2 linked regions of the Homo sapiens genome follow. The protein of the gene in region 1 purifies or fractionates together with the protein of each later gene. This does not show direct contact. Each region holds a gene or a part of one and is shown on either strand. Other genes may lie near its edges.

Region 1 (3,661 bases):
TTCCTTCAAGAGCTCTTCAGCAGTCCGTTTGGTAACTCAGGTAATTGAACACCCTTGGTTCCCTCTGTCTCTTTCTAAGACAACAGAAAATAGTGGTTTTAAGAAAATCCAGGTCAGATTATTTTGGCAGATGCTGTGAGGACTCATCTGTCCCCATGGTGGTCCCCCCATGAATGAGGAAAGAAGGGAATGAGGCTTTCACTAGTTATTCCTGGACTTTTATTTGCACATCTGGTTTGTAAAATTTTTCTTTTTCCAAATTGGTATACTCTCACAGGTCCTTTATCTGTCTGAGACCTGGTGTGCCCTTCAGCACCTCACGTCCTCATTTCCCTTTCTCTTCAAATCTCAAGTCTCATCCAACAGCCTGATCCATATCACCATCATCGCTTACCTACCCTCCCTGTTTCTTCACTTGTCCTACCAGCAGCCATTGATCCCTATAAAAACAGTCAGGTCAGGCCAGGTGTGGTGGCTGACACCTGTAATCCCAGCATTTTGGGAGGCCGAGGGAGGTAAATCACGAGGTCAGGAGATCCAGACCATCCTTGCCAACATGGTGAAACCCTGTCTCTACTAAAAATACAAAAATTAGCCGGGTGTGCTGGCATGCGCCTGTAATCCCAGCTACTCAGGAGGCTGAGGCAGGAGAATCTCTTGAACCCGGGAGGTGGAGGTTGCAGTGAGCCGAGATTGCGCCACTGCACTCCAGCCTGGGCGACAAAGCAAGACTCCATCTCAAAAAAATAAATAAATAAAAATAAAATAAAATAAAAATAAAAATAGTCAGGTCACATTACTCCTCTGCTTGAAAACCTCCAACAGCTTCCCATTAGCCTTGAAAGAAAACCCCAACTCCTTTCCATGCTCCTTGAGTCCTGCCTGTTCTGGACACTCACTGTCTTCCTAGCCCAGCACCTCCCACTCTTCCATTGTTCAGGGTGCTCTAGGCACATGGCCGTCTGTCTGTTCCTTGTACTCACCAGGCATGCAGGTCCTGCCTCAGGACATTTGCACTTTCTGTTCCCTCTGCTCTGAATGCTTTCCCAGGACATCCACATGGCCCACTCTCTCACTCCGTTGAAGTCTTTATGTCACCTTATCGGAGCATACGTCCTTACCCCCATCTCTGTTGTAGCATCCCTGCTGTGCTCCATCCCCTCATACTCTATATTGTATGTGTTTATTTGATATATATACTATCAGATATAGTGTATGTTTATATGTACACTATAAATTATATATTTGTCTGATTTCTATTTGTCCCTCTGCACTAGAAATAAATCCAATGGAGCAGGGACATTATTTGCTCTGTTCTCTGTTGTACTAGAACAGGGCCTAGAACATAATGTTCAGCAAATATTTGTTGAAAGAAGTAAAGGAAAAGAAGGAGGGAAAGAGATTTAAAAATATTTTAAATGCCATATTTTAAAATCCCATATTTCAGCAGTACCTCTAGTTCATAGAAGTCGCTGGGCTCTATTCTCCTTCCAGGCCAAAAGGGGAGTAGAAGTCGGAGAACTGAGCCCCAGTATCCCCTGTCAGCCCACTGTGTCCTTGGGCTTGCACGTGCATGTCCCACCCAGCTCCAGGGCGTTGTGGGATGTGGGTGAGTATGCCTTGATTCCTGGCTAAGCCCATTTCCCACATGTTCTCACATGAAGGTGGTAGCTGGCACTGGTTGATGGCATGCCCCTGAGGGCCTGGCCTGAGTTGAGCATAACTCTTTTGTTACCTCATTTTATACTCATGACAACCCTACGAGGTGTAGCATCCTTCATCCCTATCTTTTCAGGTCTAGAAGGTAAAACCAAGAGGGGTTATGTACTTTCCCAAAGACCAACATCTCATAAATGGCAGAGCAGGACTTTAGGTTTTCCTGGCTCTAAAACCCATGATAGCATTGAGGTTGAGAGTCAGGCTCCAGGGTCAGTCTGTCAGTGCAGATCCAGGGGCTTTGGATGACTTGCCTTATTTCATCAATTCCAAAATGTGTATTTTTGCACATTGCCACATCTTAAAATCAGGACATGACATGCAATCAATAGCTGTTTCAAAATGGCTGTGGGTCTATGGCAGCTCACCCTAGTTGGGTGGGAAACTTTGATGAACCCTTTCTGGTAAGTTCAAGAAAGTGCCAGCATCAAAGGATCCTAGATTCAATGAAATATAGGTAATTATCCCTCTCAGCTTCCATGTCTTCATTTGTAAAATGGGAGTAACAGTGGTATCTACCTGATATAATTACTGGCGGGATTAAAGGAGCTAATATCTGTTTGGTGCTCAGCATGGTGGTTGCCACAGAGATGGGACTCAAGAATTATGGCCTATGTGCTGTGTTGTCATTGTTATTATTACTACACCCCACTCTGCCTTCAGAAGTTCCCCCAGTGGATCCCTCAGCACCTGAATTCTAGTAAAGAGAGAATGCATGGGTTGGGGGGGTGCTTTCTGGGGCTGCCCTTGTTTACATGCACACAGAGCATGCGTTCTCCCACGTGAGATGGTAAAATGGAACCACAAGATCTGTTTGCACTGGCCACACCCACATTTTTCAGTGCCAGTTCCTCCCCCTCTGGACCATCTGCCCCCTTTCCTGCTTCCCTTCCTTCTTGACAAAGAAAACAAGATATTGACTCAAGAGAACAGACTCAGCAAATGCAACAGGAAAGTAAGAAAGGGCTGCAGAAGTTGCCACTGGCTCCTCAGCTGGATTTCTTGTTTGGAATGGTCCCACAAGTCCCAAGCCATGCTGTGTGTCAGGACTGTGCCCACCCAAAGATGATTTCCCTGAGGTGAGGATGGATTCTGTCTACAAAGTAGGGAAGGTACAGCACAAATACTGGCTCTTTTGAAAGTGGCCAAAAGTCACAAAGGGATGGCCAGGCTTCTTAGTGTATCCTGGCTTTCAAACTGTCACTTGGGGCATCCTTGGGGCATGATATGGTCTTGGCATCAGAATATTGCATCAGAAAATGGAAAAAACTAGAAGTTGGAAAAACACATCGGACTCCAGGAACTTTGGGGTGTTCAAAAATGGATCAATTCATTTATGCACTCATTCAATTCCATCATATCATATTTATCATGCTCATATTATGATAAGATACCAGGATTTGGCCTTGCAGAAGCAAAGATGGTGTCAATTGAGGTATGAAATGGAAGACCAAAACACAAACCCGACAAATCTGTGAAATGGAATAAAAAGAAATCACCACTCTGTTCATTTGATTTTTCAATAAGCTTTTCTTTCTCTTTCTCCTTCCATCCATGTGGTAACCAGATGCAGCTGGTAGGTAAGCAGGCAAGCACTGCTCCTCATTTTACAGATGAATAAGAAACAAACTGGCTTCCAAGTCTTGGGGCTCTCCCCATGTGTGCTGCAGGGCTGCACTGGATTAGAGTCCCCCTGGCTGGGACATGCAGACTTCCGGTAGGTTCAAATGTCTCTCTAGTCACTGCTGTTAGTGTTTTACCCCGCCTCTTTGTTTCAAATGTGAGGCAGTAGTAAGATTTCAACATGGCAAGCAGGTTGTTCTCAGAGGGTTGGAAGGCAGGGACCCTAGAACACCTGTAAATACCATGTTCTGCCCACAGAAATGTGTAGGATAATCTGTGTGTGCGAAGCACTGGTTGGGTAGGAAGCAGTGAAGGGTGGGCA
Region 2 (3,015 bases), on another chromosome or scaffold:
GCCAGGCTGGTCTTGAACTCCCAACCTCAGGTGATCCACCTGCCCCAGCCTCCCAAAGTGCTGGGATTACAGGCATGAGCCACCATGCCCGGCCTAACCTATTTTATAGTTAATAGAGACGGGGTTTTACTATGTTGCCCAGACTGGTCTCGCACTCCTGGACTCAAGTGATCCTCCTGCCTTGGCCCCTGCCAAAGTGCTGGAATCCCAGCCATCAGTTACCATGCCTGGCCCCAGCAACAATTTTTAATTCCATATTTTATCTTGCACATAGTAAAGGTCTCTGTTAACCAGATGTTTAACGGCTTCCCTCGATTAATACTCAATACACCAATATCTAGGAGGGTCTTTCTCCCTTCATGAATATACAGTAGCGATATACATATAGACTTTAGAAAAAGTAATAATCTGACTCTTCTACCAAATATAAATGTGATTATAATCATATAATCCAGGCTTTCTCAGGGAACATTTTTCAGGGCTAATTTCTCAAAACTGTAACTAAATTATCCAAGACAAAGTCTTATATTCCATGAATACATTTCTCGAAATCAAGATTTGCAAATTCAACCATTAGACACTTTGTGGGAAACCAGCTCATGTTTAATTGTGACATTTTAAAATTGTACAGGTATTTTGACATCTGCCCCCCACATTTAGTCTCTCAAAATGACAGGAAAACAACCAATCACAGGTTTAATACATTGACCCCTTCAGTTCCTATATGCAGCACCCAATATTCCTTTGAAATATGAAATAGACCTGGCAGTGGCCAACAGTAAATTTCTGCCCGCTGCCTCCCACCACCAACGGAGTTGAAAAGTTCAGGTTTAGTGTTGTTGTAGTGGCACTTGTCCAGAATTGGTACCTCCCCATAGTTGGGGGACTTTAAATGTACCAATGAAAATAGCTTTTTCCCCTTCAAGGGGAAGAAAGAAAATCACTCCTCAAAACCCAGCAGATCTGGCTGTGAGGTCTTTCCTCCTATCTCATCTCTTCAGGCTTTTTTTTTTTTTTTTTTTTTTTTTTTTTTTTTGCAGTGGAGCAAGAGAGACCAAAACCTAACCTGAGTTACAAGAAACAAGACAGTAATGGCTATAAAGGGAGTGACCAGGAGCAACTGGGACACTCCTTTACCTCCCATATCCAATGTATGTGTTTCACAGAAAAACAACAAAATTAACAAATTCACAAAATACAACAGCTAGAATTACAAAATCCATTCATCCAAGGGTGGTAGAAGGCAGGATGGAAAGGTGGAAGGGTAAATGGCACAGGGAGAAAAACAAAGTGTTCCAATCAGTCCAGGCACAGGGACTGGCAAATGCTAGAAAATAGCTGCAGAAAAACCTGTGGTCCTTTCAGACTCACGGTGATGTTAAAAATCCACACACTGGTGTCAGGGAACATTCTGCCTTACGTGCACCAGAGACAAAAATTTCAATTCCTCAGAGAGAAGGGAATACGCAGAGGGCCCTTGGCAGAGCGGGTCCTGCCTTCCCTGGCAGGCGGGAGGTGAACAGGGAAAAGAGCTGCCACAGCTTCTTCCAATCCCGCCCATCCCCTTTGGATGGCAGGCAACTCAGTGACCTGCAGTAGCCTTCAGTTTGGCAGGCGACGGATGCGGTGAAGGGAACTTCTCTGCAGAAGTAGAGCTGCTCAGGGCCGACTGCAGGTAGACTGTCTTGTGGAAGAGTCTGTTGCTTAAGAAGACCACCAAGGAGAAGAGGCGCAACTGGAAGAGACTAAAAGGCAAGAAACCCAACTTGTTAGCTCCCCAGTTACTCAAAATTATTTCCGTTGTTTGACAACTTGACATTAAATTTAAAACTACACAGGGAAAGACAAGACAAATGAAACTTGATCAAGGAAATACAGATATTAGATACATGGATGGAACAGGCAACTAAAGAATACATTGGAGCCGGGCGTGGTGCCTCATACCTGTAATCCCAGCACTTTGGGAGGCTGAAGCAGGTGGATCACTTGAGAAAAAAATTAGCAGGGCATGGTAGCATGCGCCTGCAATCCCAGCTACCCAGGAGGCTGAGGCAGGAGAATCGCTTGAACCTGGTAGGCGGAGGTTGCAGTGAGCCGAGATCACGCCACTGCACTCCAGCTTGGGTGACAGAGCGAGACTCCGTCTCAAAAAAAAAAAGAATGCATTGGGCCCTGCTGCTGCCATGAATGTAATGCAGTCACCAGCGTTGAAGTATTGTGGCTCTTACAGGAAATAGTTATATTTTAGATTAACTTTGATTTGAGAAGTACTTTTCTATGGCTGACTTCGGGGTACAGACTTCAAGCTATGTCTGAAGGTATCATATGCTATCTGTGGTTGCAGGAAGAAGAGTTTCAAAAGAAAGTCAAATATTCCTCTTAAGATAAACAGTGAGCTGTGCTGTATAGCAAGAGCATACAAAAACCCAAAGCAGACCTAAGTCTCTAATACAAGTATCCACACTGACTTAACCAAAATTGATCAAAGATGAATTGAGCTTTTCTTTGAAGTAATAAAACTTTTAGAATGCTATTATTATTGCTAAAAACTCATTTTAAAGTATATTTTACTACTGTTATCAATAAACTCATGTGGCCAGGTCATACAGCCCTCTACTTGAATATGTATAATGGGATCGGTTTTGGAAATATATATATACTCATGTGCATATATGCATGGAGAAAAGTTTGGGTTATATCCCAGAAGTGTTTCTCTCTCATTAAACCTTATATTAAGATTTTCCTACAGTAAGAATTTTTTTTTTTAAAAAGCCTCACTGACATAACTGGTGTTACAGCCCCAACCCTTTACACAGCAAAAATTTCATCACTGGCTAATACTTACTATGCTTTGCCAGGGGTCTTTGCTTCATTGGCGCTGATAATGAATAAAGGAAAGAGGATAGAGAAAAGGCAGCCACTGTTTAAAAAAAAAAAAAAGAAATAATTAGTCACCTTCATAACAGACATGACTTTGAAGAAGATATTAGAAGCTCCAAGTTCTTTTGCTTCCAG

What was found. The genes of interacting proteins can lie anywhere in the genome.
Region 2: the proteins of SLC6A17 (region 1) and EI24 purify together in Homo sapiens (affinity purification with mass spectrometry; one large-scale study listed by BioGRID and IntAct). This does not show direct contact.

What each region holds. Positions count from the first base shown.
Region 1 is NC_000001.11:110,156,833-110,160,493, forward strand, and holds part of SLC6A17 (sodium-dependent neutral amino acid transporter SLC6A17), read left to right. Parts: intron 1-3,661. UniProt on the Homo sapiens protein: Synaptic vesicle transporter with apparent selectivity for neutral amino acids.
Region 2 is NC_000011.10:125,582,251-125,585,265, reverse strand, and holds the end of EI24 (etoposide-induced protein 2.4 homolog), read right to left. Parts: intron 2,921-3,015; coding exon 2,846-2,920; intron 1,746-2,845; coding exon 1,583-1,745; 3' UTR 582-1,582; downstream 1-581. UniProt on the Homo sapiens protein: Acts as a negative growth regulator via p53-mediated apoptosis pathway. Regulates formation of degradative autolysosomes during autophagy.